Linked DNA regions of Homo sapiens: region 2 is linked to region 1. The links come from fine-mapping of genetic effects on gene expression. Tissue or cell type: fibroblasts. Region 1 holds a variant in brackets; the other region holds the start of a gene. All regions are shown on one strand. Distances are from middle to middle.

Region 1 (8,110 bases):
CTCCATAGATAGATAATTTGATAGACCCACACATTATATAGAATATGAAATAACACTAATTTACTAAAGTTGCTTGTTTCCCCCAACTTCCACTCCATTATACATTTTTGGGATCTGGCTAAGGAAAAGTTGAGTTGGCGTATTTGGGTTCTGTTGGATGGGCTTATGTGGTTTGCAGTTACCTCTTTGTGTGGTTGTTATTTCTGTCAAGATATTACAAGCTAGTAAATGGTAGAATTAAAATTTAAGTCTGTGTGTTTCAAGATGTAAACCTTAACCTTATACTATACGACCTTTCATACCTTTGGTGCTCAATCCCCAGGGTTGAAAATTTTTTTTATTTATTTATTCATTTATTTATTTTTAATTGAAAAATAGCAATTTTATGTTTGTGGGATATAATGTGAAGTTTTGGTCTTTGTATACATTGTAGAGATTCAATCAAGCTAGCATGTCCATCACCTTACCAATTTATCATTTTTGTGTGTGTGGTGAGAATGTTAAAAATGTATCCTTTTAGCAATTTTGAAATACATAATACATTATTATTAACTGTGGTCATCATGCATGATAATAGATGACTAAAACTTATTCCTCCACTATTACTGAAACTTTGTACCTTTTGATCAACATCTGTCTTTCCCCATTCCTACTATATAGATACAGCATCCTACATCCCTGCTATAGATACAGTTCATAACATAACGTAACAATCTTTATGTTAGCCACATAGTAACCAGAAAGAAAAAAATTACAGCAGATACACAAATGAGAAAGAGAAAAGAACAAAACAAACAAAACTTAGCAACACAGAAAACCACCAAACCACAGAGGATAAAACAAGAGAGGAAAAAATGACAAATAAAAAAAAGGATCTACAAAACCACCAAAAAACAATTAACAAAAAGGTAGGAGTGAGCCCTAACTGATCAATAATAACCTTGTGGGTAAATGGATTAAATTATCTCATTAAAAGACAGAATGGCTAAAAAAGCAAACAAATTAAAAAACAAAACAAACAAACAAACAAAAAAACAAGACCCAACTATATGACTCACCTTACTGCTTACTGTTAAAGACAAACATAAACTGAAAGTGAAGGGATGAAAAAAGTTATTCCATGCAAACAGAAACCAAAAGCAAACAGGGGTAGCAACATATGCCTGATAAAATTGACTTTAAGTAAACAATTGTAAAAAGAGACAAAGAAGATTATTATATAATCATAAAGGATCAATTCAACACGAGAATATAATAATTATAAGTGTATATGCACCCAAACGGGAGCACCCATTATATAAAGCAAATATTAATAGAGCTAAAGAGAGAGAGGTAGACTGCAATACAATGATAGAATGGAACTTCACCCCACGTTCAACAATGGACAGATCATCTAGACAGAAATTCAAAGAAACACTGGAGGCTGGGAGCAGTGGCTCACACCTGTAATCCCAGCACTTTGGGAGGCCAAGGCGGACTGATCACAAGGTCAGGAGTTTGAGACCAGCGTGACCAACATGGTGAAACCTCATCTCTACTAAAAATACAAAAATTAGCTGGGTGTAGTGGCACGGGCCTGTAATCCCAGCTACTCAGGAGGCTGAGGCAGGAGAATTGCTTGAACCCAGGACGTGGAGGTTGCAGTGAGCCGAGATCATGCCACCACACTCCAGCCTGGGTGTCAGAGCAAGACTCTGTTTCCAAAGAAAAAGAAAAAAGAAAAAAAAAAGAAAAAAGAAAATAAACATTGGACTTAAACTGCACTTTATACCAAATGGACCTAACAGACATCTACAGAACATTTCATCCAGCAGCTGCAGAATACACATTCATCTCAACTACACATTGGACATTCTCCAGAACAGAGAGAATGTCAGGCTACATAACAAGTCTTAACAAATTTAAGAAGATAGAGAATTATATCAAGTATTTTTTTAGACTACAATGGCATAAAACTAGAAATCAAAAAGAAAAGCTTTGGAAACCTTACACATACATGGAAATTAAAAAACATGCTCCCAAATCTATTAATGGGCCAATGAATAAATTTAAAGAGAAATTTAAAAATTCTTTAAGATGAATGAGAATGGAGACACATCGTACCAAAAACTATGGAACACAGCTCTAAGAGGGAAGTTCATAGCAATAAATGCCTGTATCAAAAAAGAAAGATTTCTAACAAACAACCTAACCATGCACCTCAAGAAAATTTAAAAAATAAATAAATCCAAAATTGGTAGAAGAAAGGCAATAATAAAGCTCAGAGCAAATATAAATGAAATGGAGACTGAAAAAAAATTTAAAAGATCAACAAAATGAATAATTGGGTTTTAAAAATTGAACAAAATTAACAAACCTTTAGCTAGACTAAGAAAAAAGAGAAAAGGCTCAAATAAATGAGATTAAAAAAAGATATACAACTGATATCACAGAAACTTATATATATATACACATATATATCTGTATCAAATGCCTATGCTATATATACATATATAGATATGTAGATATGTACATATACATTTATGTGTTTATTTATTTATATATTTATTTATATATGTATATATGTATATATACACATATATATCTATATCAAATGCCTATGCTAGATATATATTTATACATATGTACATATATGTATATATATTTATATATAGCATAGGCATTTATATATGTAGGCATTTATATATAGTATAGGCATTATATATAGCACAGGCATTTGATTTTTTTAAAGGCAGATATTCTATCCTTAGCCCTGTGCCAGCATTTGACACTACTTTTCACCTCCATCTCTGGCTCTAAAACTTTATTGAGCTTTACTGAGCTTGCTGCTCATTGTTGCCCTGGCTGTGCACTACACTCTGTAAATTCGACTGCCTGCCTTTGCTAGACAAGATCTTTGCTCGTGCTCTTCTCTCAGTCTTAAATGGGTTTCACTACTCACGTTGGTACTGGTCTTTGCTAATCACTTCAGATTTGCCAAAAAGTACTGATATCAACAAAGACAACCTAAAACTCTGAAAACAAGTTTAAAAGACTCATCTATTAAAAGAGTTTTAAAGATTAGTTACAATACTTGAAAACTTGAAATGCTCCCAACTCTTAACACCTCCCATATGACAGAACTTTGAAAGAAGTATTCCCAATTATGACAGCAATCCTAAATATTTACCTGTGACTGACAATAAAGAGTTGTGATGGTGTAAGAAACTTTACTAAACTATCAGTAATTAAACATAGTTTTTGATGAATTGCGCTATTGTAAAAATGAATTCTTTTATACTCTTCACAAAAAAAGAATGAAAAATAATTGTCATGTGAAGAGGTAAAGGGTATGCAGGCAAAAAAATTAGAAAAAATATTAGAAAACACTGTTAGGTAATTAAGTAAAAATTGATGTTAGTTTTCTGAATGTGTCAGCTTTTAAAAATGTGTAATTAGTAGTAAGATATTTTATCATTCTAAAGAAAAATTTACTCTGTACCTGTTTACATTAATAATGTTACATATTCTGTTTCTCAAAGAGAGTTTTCAAAATTGCAATAGATTCTGACTCTGCAAAATTTAGATCAGTCCTTAGATAGGTGCTGTTTTATCCACACTGCAGAGAGAAAGAGATAAATAGAGGAATACTATGTAAATCACTTTTCCAAGGTTACGCAGCTAGGAAGAGGCTGAGCAGGGACATATTTAAACCAACCA[C/G]TATGACTCTAGATTCTGAGCTATTAACCAGGAATCCAAGACTTGTCAATTTTGGCTGTACATTCAGATCTCTAGGGCAGCTTAAAAATACCAATGCCTGGGCCCCATCCCTGACCAATGAAATCATAATCTCTTGGGATCTGAACCTTGGTATTTTGTTAAAGCTCCCTAGATGATTCTAATGTTTAGCCAAGTGTGAGACTCACTGCATTAAACCCATCTTATCAACAAAAGGTTTTGGCTTTTGTGATGGAACTTTAAACATTTTTAAGGCAGTTATGCTATATGAGCAATCTGACTGCAGGAAGCTGTGCCAACAAAATTTTCAAGGAATTTGTAATATCTTCCCTGGTTTGCGTCCCTATGGCCCTCTAATCCTCACAGCTGGCATTACTTAGTGTCCATATGCAAGCGCAGTTCCATCCAGGTTATGGGACCAACATTGTTCTCAGAAGCCTAAAGAAACAGAAATCTTTGTCGTTAGTCACATAGCATCCATTATCTGTAGCCAATCCACTTTTCAACTTCTTCCCTAGTAGTCTGTAATCACATTTAGTAATTATTTAGTTTTACACTTGCTTCCACTTGACCAACTTACCACAATTGTTGCTTACTATTTACTTTTTCGATATTACCTTTAATATTCATCAAATTATTTCATATATCATCTTTATGTCATTTTATTTCCTGGATTCTTTATACAAATACGCAAGTGTATATCTCACAAAATAGTTTATCTTCAGTGTATGTGTTGTTTCTGTTGAATTATCTTGGAAATCAAAGATTAGAGTTCATTTTAAATTGGAAAGTAAAGATGAATATTTTAAATATGTGATGAAAAGCTAGTAAAAATATTGGAAAATGATTAGGAAGAAATATGTCTTAACTTACAAAATATATATTTTTTTCATTTACAGGTACAAGGGATTGCTCCTTGCTAGGTACATTTTTCCCTCTCTACTCTTTGCCACAGTCAGCGCTATGCTAACCATCTTTTTTGCTTTAGATGTGTAGACGCGATTATGTTATACTATTTACAATATCCTACATAAAAAAGGAGGTGAAAAATTAAAAAAAAGAAAAAGGTTTCAACCTTTTTTTTTCTTCTCAGTAGTATTGAAAAACATGAATGCACAATCTTCTTTGTGTCCTTATCAACAGCATAATGCGGAACACACATTAGGATTTCAAAAGATGTAGCTGAACTTGCCACAGTGGTCTGTGATCTTTTCTGTCACCTGGCCCAGGCAGAGAAACTTCTTGCTTCATGTCAGGAGCACATGTGGCATCACTGGAGACATTCATGATAATTCTAGGGTGTGAATTGATATTTGCCAGGGCATCATATTACTGCTGAGCTAGTACCTATTTACTTCTCTTTGCTTTTCTACTTGGTTTTGATCTCTATTTGATACATTTCTTTCATTCTTTCATATTTCATATACACACAACACTGGGTCATTAGTCTTAAAAACCATGTACTTGAAATTCTTGCCAACTTTGATACAGGTATACCACTAATGTGCTTCAGCACTCAGAGTACAACAAACAAAGAGGGAAAGAAAACTCAGGAGCGTTATGCTTATTGAGCTCCTTGTCTTTGGAAGAAAACACCAGGAGGGGGGATAGAAGATTTACTTGCAATACCAGACACATGACAAGTATTTATTTTATTGATTATGAATTATATTATAGCTGGCCTTGTTGGTAACCAATTGAATTAACATTAAAGAGAGAAAAGTTGATGGCAAGTATGACTTTCAGGGCGAGATATTTACTTTGTTCTAACTCTAAAGAATACTACAAAAAGTATAAGTGTGAAAGAATAGTTATTTGGCCATGTTATTTTGTGTAATTCGTTTGGTCAACTGAGTGATATGAGCTGTGTGACATTTATTAGCATCACTTTAATGAAATCAGAGGAAAATTTCTATCTTTTGTTTACTCTTTTTCTTGACATTTAATATAACCTTAATAAAATATAACATTAAAATGTTATTTTAGTTTTCATTATTCCTGGAGTCCCAGAAGAACAGATAACTAAAAGAATGAAAGAAATGTATCAAATAGAGATCAAAACCAAGTAGAAAAGCAAAGAGAAGTAAATAGGTACTAGCTCAGCAGTAATATGATGCCCTGGCAAATATCAATTCACACCCTAGAATTATCATGAATGTCTCCAGTGATGCCACATGTGCTCCTGACATGAAGCAAGAAGTTTCTCTGCCTGGGCCAGATGACAGGAAAGATCACAGACCACTGTGGCAAGTTCAGCTACATCTTTTGAAATCCTAATATGTGTTCAGCATAATGCTGTTGATAAGGACACAAAGTACCTCTGGAGAAGTGGGCTGGTTCTCAGGGCAGAGCAGGCTGGTGAGGCGGTTACTGATCATGGAACAGAGGATGATTCAAAAGAGAGATTCTGACATTAAAAGCCAATATGTAGTCTAACCAGCTTCTTTGCAACTGGCTAGAAAGGGGAACAGGATTCAGTTAGAAGGCAAAATGTCAGAGAAAGCATGAAAACCAACCAGAGGACAAGTATGAAAGCAGAAGGATGAACATGGGGTACGTGCAGATTCCTGGGGCCCCTTGGGTCCAACTGTGTCAGGAACCTGCCTATTCAGCTGTGAAACAGAACACTGAAGGGAGCCCAGTGAGCTTGAACTTCATGTCTGTGGAACTGCTTCTTCTTATCACAGCATTTTCTAGATTAGAAAACGGCAATTCAGGGAGGTTTGTTTATTGGTCAGATCACACGGCTAGTTAATGGGAATTCTAGTATTCTAACTTAAGTCTCCAGATTTTCTCCTCAGATTTCTCTGTGATTTGCACATGTCTGTTGTCTCAGTCTTAAGTCTTACTCTTCTTATGCCCCCACACTGACCTCAGACTTATTCTAAAAACCAGGACTGATCACAGTAATTCATAATTTAAAACAATTTATGGTTTCCCATAATGAAGTTTAAATTTCTTCACATAGCCCACAAAGTCTTCTGATGATCTGGCTTTTGGTACCTGTGCAGCCTCCCTTCCTATGCATGCCCCAGCTTGTCCTCTGTGATCAAGGTCTCCATCTCTTTCATCTCTAGTACAGCACCCTGCTTGTTAATAAGGTCATGAAAAATATGTGGCTATATCTACTACTGCACTTGTGGTATTGAAGATAGACATTACTTGGATGATATTCACTCATCTGAATATTATCTTTCCTTTACATCACAACCTCCAAGCACTTTGTGTAGATTATCAAAGCCTCACAAAATCCTATGAAGGTGCATAGACATCCAACAAATAACTACTTAAATGAGTAAATAAAGAAGCGTAAACTTTATGTTCATTTTTTCTATGTATAATATTGTCTCATCGGAGAACATTCATCCTCAAAACTAAGGACTTCAAGTGAGAGTTAATCTGTCAGTAATAAATACATTTTCATCTGGAGGGTTGTACCCCAAATACTCTACTTTGAACATAATTCCTGTAAGATGCATTTTTCTCAAGGCAGATTATCAGCTGCTTATATTTTCCCAGGACAAAAGTGCTCTTAAGAGCCTATCTTAATTGAGCAATTGATTAATTAGCACTTTTCTACTTTCACCAGGGAGTGAGAATTTAGAGGGTATTACTGTGCTAATAAGCTCACACCTTTCCTATTTTAAACTGTTTTCAATTTTGGGAATACAAATCCCTAAGACAAGAAAAATAAATTTGAAATCTTTTCATCCATGCAAAATGCAAAGTAGGTCACCCCACCTGTTTCTACTTGACTAGCACATTTGCTGAGGAGCAAGACATTTTCCTCTCATGTTTCTGTTTCAAATCTACCACGTGTTTGTTGGGGGAATTTAATATCATAATATATAAAGTAGCAAAGAGCACCAAGTCACAGACAGATTAAAAAAGGGTTAAAAGTTCTATCTTAGTCCATTTTGCGCTGCTATGACAGAACACCTGAGATTCTAATTTATAATGAACAGGAAATTACTGGCTCACAGTTCTGCAAGCTGGCAAGTCTAAAGTGTAAGGTAAGGCACTTGCAGTTTTGGTGTCTAGAGAGGCTGTTCCCCTCTTCCGAGAAGGCACCTTGCACATGAATTCCCACATGGCAGAAAGTAGAAAGGTAAGAGAGTCCAGTCCTGAAAGCCCTTCTCTGCCCTCATGTCCTAGGCACCTCCCATTAAAACCTACTTCCCCACACTGTTGCATTGGGTCTTAAGTTTCCAACACATGAATTTGGGGGGGCACATATAAGCTAAAGCAAGGCCCCAGTCTCTTTTCCTTGTTTGATAATTCTCTTTTAACCTTCCTTATTTGACAATTCTCAAATGTATGTATGCTCATTAATAAACAATAACCAATTGTTGTAATCTCTATTATGATTTTTAAAAATTTGTTCTAGATATCA
Region 2 (8,097 bases), 630 kb before region 1:
TAGAAGGATCTATTTACATTTGTGTAAAATGAGAATTGTATTATACAATACAACTGAGGTGATGGCCAATCCATGGGCAGAATATTATCATAAGCTTCTGATGATCTTTCAACCTTCTTTCATGAGTGAGCCTAGTTCATATGACAGTCGTTCTTAGGGCCACTTGACAGTCTGAAAATTATTGTGGACCCCAAGGAGTTTTTGTTATATAGGTTATTTCTTTCAATAGTCAACCTATGAATTACAACAGAAATCTTTAAAATATTTATTAATTCATTTAAATAACTATAGTAAACCTACTGCACATTAAAGTAACATTATTTTCCAAAGAAATGTTTTACATTTTTGTTAATCTCTTTAATGTCTGGCTTAATAAAAGACAGTTGAATTCTCATATCATGTCTGTTTTCAATCTGTTGCAATTTATTTTGTTTGAAGTATATCTTCAAACAAAGGAAAATCCAATTTTTCACAGATATGTAGTTGGAAAATGAAGAAACATTTCAATAATCTTTTCAAACAATTCTGGATATTCTTCTTTAACGTGACACCATAACTCAACAAATGGTAGTTTCTTAAACCTTATAATTGCAGTATGGAATATGAAACCATATCAGTTAACTTTTCATACTGTGTTACATTAAAACCCGTTCGTCTATTTTGCATTTTGAATGGATCCTTATGCGTGATTTTAGATCATGATGCATTATTAGTCATTTGGAAAATACTTGTTCATTGAGCTATGCAGTTCTTCCAAATGTTGATATATGTCATTGTACGATATCTAAAACCACATTCATTTAAATGATCACGATCTTACTAGGAAAGACTTTAAGTACTGGGAAACTGTCAAGCTCATGGTGACAAAAACAAGTTTTAAAAATTCTAATTTTTTACTCAAAAGTTCAAGTTTTTCACTGGAAATAAATATTGCTGTTTGTTTGCCTTGAAATGACAGGCTGACTTCATTCATTTGTTAAAAAATTTTTTTAAAAAAGTGTTTGCTAAGTATCCAAGTCTGAGTAACCATAGTTTGTCTGTCAGTTGTTCTTTCAAGTAAAAATATGTCACATAAAAAAGCAGGTAGTTTAGCTCACAAATCAATTACATAAATGTCTTCGTTCAGGATAAACAACTGCACTTTAGTATGCCACAGAAGAGCTTTATTTGTGCCTCCCAGTTTGCCATACGGAATATTAAAAAGACATAGTCAAGAGTTGAAATTTAATAAAATAAGTATTTTTTACTGCTTCATCAAAGACATTCTTAAGCGAAACTCATATTTGGGGCAGTAAAAAATACAATAACTACCAGGATAGTTGGGTGCCACTGCTTTGAACATGCTAAGGTGCTAGCAGGTTTACCCACCATTGCTTTCGTATCATCAGTGCAAATGTCAACACAGTCAAAGAAGGCAAATTATGTCTTAGAATTAATATGAAACTAGCTTTGTCCTTGCAGACCTCCCCTGAAAGGATCTCAGAAACCCCCATGGGTCTACGAACCCCAGTTTGATGACTGCTGCCTTAAAACATAGGTTTCAACCAGTAGTTCTCCTAAATAGACTTAAATTCACTCTTGGTTTTATAATAGTTTTTGGCTTTTTCCTCCAATTGCATATTTAAGAATTGCCTGGTTTAAAAGTAAATGCAGATATAAATATGTAAATATCTTGCAAACACTTGAATATGTTATACTATCCAATCCTCACAAAACATCTGTAAGTCAACTATAATTTATTCCATTTTTATATTTGAAAAAAGCCACTGATGCTCAAAGAGGTTTTGTCCTACAGCAAATAATTTTCAGAGTCTAGAATTAAATATAAGCCTGTTTGGCTAAATAACATATGTTCTATCTAATATGGCACATTACCCAAGTCTCTCAAAACACTGAAGATAACTTACATATATATATAAATATAAATATATACAATGCCACTGGTTTTATCGGTGGCTTGTTTTTTTAGAAGACAGAGTATACTGATATATGCAAATCCTGATGTTCAAAACACAGATATTTTGATGAATTTTATGAAATTCACAGAGTCCTTACAGAACTTTCCTACAGACTCAGGTCTGTCATTAATTGCCTGAATTAATGATGTCTCTCTAACATCATTAGCACTCAGTTTCTTCCTAATGGCAATTTTAAATCAATACCCCAATCACTGGTTCATTTGAATTCCCAATCAACCCTGTGAAATGCATGGGGGTAGATAGTGTTGCCCCAATGTACCAAAGAGGGAAGTGATCCTCATATACATGCAGCATAAACTAAAATTGCATTGGTCAAGAATACCAAGACTTTTTGTAAATAAGAGCAGCAGCTTTTCAGTCTAGTTGTCTCCATCTGTCTGCCTCTTTCTACCCTGGTCACTAGCCCTGTCCTCCCTTGGCTTCATTGGTCCTACTCTGTTGCCCTTCTTCTCTGGTGTTCATCCCTTTCTTTTGCAGGGTCCTCTTCCTTCATCCATGTCTAAGACATTGGTGTCTGCCATGTCCCATCCTAAGTCTTCTCTTCCTGGCTGCCTTACTCCTCCCCCATGCTTGCCAGACACCTGAATGTATCCTTCCAGCTCCTGTCTACCCTCCTAGGAACTTTCCTTTTGGCTGCCTAAATGGCAGGGCACTCAGATGTCACAGAGGCACCCCCAACTCCACAAGTTTAAGACAGAACTCATTACATTCCTCCTAAAACTGCTCCTCTCTGTGTGTTTCTCTTGGCTAGTGGCACCATCCCTGCCTTAGCGCACCAGCCAGAAAACTGGGAGTCAGTCTAGACTCTCTTCTCTCCATTACCCTCTATGTCCAATCAATCACTAAGCCTTGTCTATTCTATTTCCTAAATATCTCTAGAGCTGTCCTAACCTCCCAAACAGCATTTCTGCTGCCTTGGTTCAGACCTAATTTTTCCTCTGGAAATAACCTCACTGTGATCTCTCTTCTATTTGTCTTGCACAGTGAAACCAGAGGAAACCTTCTAAAACACATTATCTAATAATACTTACAAACCTTAGAATCTGTCCTAGCTTAACACCTTTAACAGTTTCCCAACTACTCACCACCTCCAGGCAAGTTCTGGCTCCTTACACCCAGAGAGCCTTGTGTGGCTTGGCCTTGCTTACTTCACCTGCAGTCTAGCCGCACCTAGTCTCCTAGTTTCCAGGACACACCATGTACTTTGACACTTTCCTAACCTCTTCACTTGCTTCTGTTTGTGGAATGCCCTCCCCCCTCCACCACATCCTTGTTGGCCTTGTATTTCTTCCTTGTCTTTCAGAACTCTACACTGAAATCTCTACCAAGAGAAGCTTCTGAAGGGGAGTTAGCTGTTTCCTTTTCCATGCTTCCACAGGACCAGGTACCTGCACTTATTATAGTGCTAATCACATTTTCATTTATGCCTCTGTCTCCTCACCAGGCGGTGAGTTCCTTAAAGGCAGCACCATCACCTCTAAATCTCAGCACATAAGACATACCTGGTACACAGCAGGGACTTCGTAAGCTTTGTTAATGAATGACCCAGGGATCTGCTCTAGATCGTATCTCCTAAGTGGAGATACAATGAGGACTTTTCTCACCTCATTGTCTCATCTGCAAAAAATATGCTTGCACAGTGATCTGAAATGTCCTTTTCAGTGTTTAAAAATTTTACAAAACTATTTTATGTCGTGTAAACGGTTTTATAAATCCATTTCCTGCAGTGTTTTCATCTAGGAACCACAAAACTTTAGGAGCTGCATTGGTCCACCCTCTGTGACCAACTGTTTAGCAAAAAAGATCATAGTTCTTAATATGACCGGGATAAGGCTGATTTTCATCCTACCTACCTTAATTTCATTGTGGCAATAACAGAACTAGTGTTTTCAATACTGACACTATATCTTAATAAATAATTATATATTATTAGAACTTATATAAAACCAGGTTTGCTGGAAATCAGGTTCTCAGTTGCAAAAATGAGATCACCAAATCATTCGGTACTTTTTTTTTCTTGGTTTTCCTAAGCCCAGGCCAGGTTGCTAATTAGGTAACTTTTTATCATAATTACCTAGTCAGCCTTAATGGCTTCACACACTCTGCTCCGTTTCACTGGTCCTGTAGGGCCGCTTTTTCAATTGTTAAAACAGCTGCTGAGTTTCAAATCGGAGGAGGCTCGGTCTGCGCCGAGGGGGAAGCGCTCCCTGAGTGAAGGCTGTGATAGGCAGGCGTTCGGGTGAAAAGTGGGACATGAATGCACAGTTTGCACACTCTGCTTTCCGCCTCCAACCACCAACCTTCTGGATTTAACACGTCCCCCTCCCTGCCCCCAGATCAACCCCAGAGTTTCCCTCTATTGTGCACCCCGGTCTGCTTGACAGTGTGATGGTCCCGCGTGCGCGTCTCCTGGGTTTTGCAGCTTTGTCGGGGGCTCGGTGGGCCTCCTTCATTCTCCCCGAGTGGCGCTAAGGTTAGGACAGCAGCGTGTCCCTCGCGATGCCGCCCGCGAGGGTCCTGTTTGGGGAGCGCTGGGTCGCTGAGCAGGGTGGTGTGTGTGTGAGAGAAAGAGAGGGAGGGAGGGCTACAGGGAGAGAGAAAAGGAGGGAGAGGGTGTCTGTGTGTGAGTGTGTGTATGTGTATGAGTGTGTGTGTGTGTGTGTGTGTGTGCGTGCGCGCTGGCGCGCAGCGGGAGGGAGAGAAGGAGGGACGGAGGGGGAGGCAACGGGCAGAGGAGGGAGGGGGCGGGCGGGCAGCGGTGAGGCGGGAGGGGTTAGGGCTGGGAGGGGAAGAGACTCCGGGCTTCAGCAGTGACACTCGGGAGCGAACACACACTCCCCACTTCCAGCCGCGAGAGAGTGGAGCTAACTGAGCAGCGCACCCGCCACGGCCGCTGCCGCCCCGTGCGCCCGGCTCTCCCAGCACCCCGCGCGGCGCTCCAGCCAGGCGCCTGTGCGACTAGCGGCGGCCGGCGAAGCCCGCGCCAGCCCCGCGGGTCGCTGCGGCATCCTCCCGCCGCCCAGCCCCCGCACGCTCCCTGCAGTTTAAAAGGACCTCCCGCCGCTTCTCGGCGCTGCCCCGGGATTCCCCAGCCCCGCGCGGCTCCCTACTCCACTTCGCAGCAACTTCGGCGACCGCGCGCCGCCCGCCCTCGCCCGCCTTTGAAGTTTGCTGTGCCGACCGCAAAGTTGGGACACTTCAGCGGATTGAATTTTTCTCTTTTATCTGCCTCCGTCCCCGCCCTCCAGGCTTCTCGTTCCTGGATATTGGTGCTTAGCATCTTGGCAGGGTCCGGGGACGTGGACTATTTCGCACACCACACCACGGGGAGGGATTTTTTTCTATTTTCCCTACGAAAAACAGATCTTTTTAAGGTAAGTGGGGAGAGGAAAGCAATGCCCCAGAGACCCGACGCCTTAGCCCGCCACCCTGAGACCTAGCACAAGGAGCGTTCACGCCCGAAGGGTCATCCGAGATGGGGGCTCGAGGCACGCGCCCCCAAATCTTCAAGGCCCAAGAAGCTTCTCAAGGGCGCCCTATCCGTAGGAGCTGAGGGCATGAGGGGCAGGAGCAGGTTTCCCTCGTTTTTTTTTTTTTATTGTTGTTGTTGTTTGTTTGTTTGTTTGTTTTTAATTTAGCTGCTTTCGAAGCTGGGCGGCCCGGAGAGATGTGAGGAGGTGGACAGACAGCGCAAGGGCGGGGAAGACCTGGGACCCGGGAGCTCGGGGTGCAGTGGGGTCTGGGGAGCCGCGGAGCCTTTATCCCGGACTTAGCCTGGACACTTACTTTGCCCGCCTGCCAAGAGGGCTGTTGCCTCCCTTTCCAGGTTCATGCCCTCCGCCCGCCGCTAGGGAAAGTCTGCGGGACTGGGGTTTTGCAGAGGGCGTCTGCGTGTAGGGCGAAAAGCTAGAGGTCCAGGCAGCGCACGAGTTCTTGGTGGGCGTCTGGGAGCTGCGCAGCCGGGGCCGGGAGTTCGGTTGGCCCGACCCCCAACCGCTCTGGCTCCTCATTTGTCCTCTGCGTGGTAGGCGAGCATCGTTATAGAAACTTCCTTGGGCTGAGCGAGGTGGCCTGGGACCGGCTCATACTTTCTTCCGGAGAGCAGAGCGGCCACCGAGGTGACGCCCCCTACGGCCCCAGCCAGGAGACTCGGCTTCGTGCCCTCGTCCTGTCTGTGCGTGAGTTGGGGTTCGCTCTCACCCGCGCTACCTTTCTAACTGAGCGGAGTCGCCGCGGCCCCGATAACCTAGGAGTCCGAACGAGTGATTGCAGGTCCCAGCTGTTTTCTTGGAGGCACTTTGCAAACTGCTGAATTTGGAGTGCGGTTTCGTTGCATTGTGCGCTCTCGGTTCACCTTTCTGCCCGCACCCTATCCCAGGCCCAGGCGTGAGAGCTCCCGGCAGTTCCCCGGACCCGCCCCGCATCAGCTCCTCGGAGTTTGCCGCGGGCACCTCTACGCTGTCTCTGAGCTGTCCCTCCGGCCAAGTTGCGGTTCCCCTCCTGGCCCCCTTCGGGGCGCTGTCCATTTCTTGCTCTTGGGTACGGGTGGCTCCCTAAAACCAAGACCTTGAGCGGGAAATGAACCTGAGTGTATGTCTGGGTTTTGTTGTTGTTGTTATGTTTTTTCCTTCTTTTCTTTAAATTTATTTACAGAGTTCTTTTTAGCAACTTTGTTGGGTTGATAAATTTGCTTCTCATCTGTCGATCCCGCTAAATCACAAAGAAGAGTTTATTTTTTCATTTAGTTGCTGCTTTCCCCAAACACACTACCCTCTCTTTCCCCCCTCCACCCCTCCTCCTGCTGCCTCGCTTCCTGAACCCTTTTTCTTTTCTGACGGAGGGAATCTCCGCACCTCCTCCTCTCCTCCTCCCACCCGGTCCCTGAGCGCCTGTGAGAACCAGGGGAGTCATCAATGGAAATAAATAGGACTCCGCTCCATTCTCCGCCCCCTTCAAACAAGTAAAATCCTCCCTGGGTTCGGAGAAGTAGAGATAAAACATCCCTCCCAAGGGAGCGGTTGCAGGGGATTTGATGGGATTGAATTGTTTTATTATCTTGAAAGAAGTGATGGATGGATCCGAGAGGGAATATGTATATAAAGCAGAGTGTAGTGAGGGCGATCGGTATGATTATTCATTATTGTTTGTTAAGAGTGATAATAAGGCCGCAACCTTCGCTCAGACTGTGTTTATACTGGGGTTTGAGTTTATGTCAGTCTCTTATTACAGTGGTTTCAGAAAGTGAAAACACCAAAACCGTATTAATTCTTCAGTCATTCTGCATATGGGATTAATCAAATGTCAAAAAAGATACTGTCGTTTTACCACAGTTTTAATCTATGATCTTTTAGAAGGTTGCACTCTTATAAAATGTCATTTGCCTCCATCTGTCTTCTTAAAGTTTAAAAAACTTGGCAACATAATTAATTATGGTCCCAATTCCCATTTTCAATCTAAACCTATATTCAGGATTATATTAAAATACCCCATCATTTATTCCTCAGAAGTGACTCTTATGAGTTTAAACTCTTGGAGGGGAGAGAGGGACAACTGGGAATGAGGGGCCTAGGAGTTAGATAAATTAGTACTATTTCAGATTTCTCTAAAAATTCCTTTACTTCTTCCTTTAGAGAAAGAAATTACAAGGTCCTTCTCTGCACAGTTCATCACTTCAGTGAATGCCCTTAATCTTTACCACACACTTGAAACATAACAGCTTGCAGCCTTGTCTGCATTATTGCTTTCATTTTTGTGTCAGGACATTTTATTCATTAAACCTGTATGTCAAAGACTTAGGCTTAGTGTGGCAGTAACACTCTGTTTTAATTAGTAACTATCATAAAAAAGAAGCTAGAACTCTGTAATAGGCCTAAATTGCTATGAATTATGTTTGGTTTAAATTACGCATTTATTTCAGCAGAAATGAAACCATGAATATAAAACATCTTTTAATCACTTGCAGATACAGCTTTTATCTCTTAGGATGTAACAAAATATGTAATTGAAAAATATCCTTCTAAGGACAAGAGAAGCCCCCACCCTCAGCTTATTTGTCCTGGGTCTGTTTAACATTCATATGGTGAAGTATGAATGTTAAAGAGTAAAGACTATTGTCACA

Alleles and levels. Positions count from the first base shown, and alleles are read on the strand shown. Sizes are in standard deviations (SD) of each study's normalised expression.
In carriers of allele G in region 1, the expression in fibroblasts of the gene that starts at base 4,811 in region 2 tends to be lower than with C alone (small effect, 0.16 SD a copy in GTEx).

The links. PIP is the estimated chance that this variant, and not a neighbour inherited with it, causes the effect.
Region 2: it holds the start of NDNF, and the variant in region 1 is fine-mapped to the expression of NDNF in fibroblasts (GTEx, PIP 0.90).

The regions. Positions count from the first base shown.
Region 1 is chr4:120,439,113-120,447,222 of GRCh38, reverse strand. No RefSeq gene overlaps it. Among named protein-coding and RNA genes, the nearest start is that of MAD2L1-DT, 380 kb to the right of the region's middle. The variant C/G (reference allele first, on the strand shown) is at 3,700.
Region 2 is chr4:121,069,249-121,077,345 of GRCh38, reverse strand. NDNF (neuron derived neurotrophic factor) reads left to right here and starts at 4,811. Exons shown (of 4, transcript NM_024574.4): 1 at 4,811-5,353. NDNF-AS1 (NDNF antisense RNA 1) reads right to left here and starts at 5,984. Exons shown (of 3, transcript NR_187407.1): 1 at 5,766-5,984; 2 at 3,482-3,596.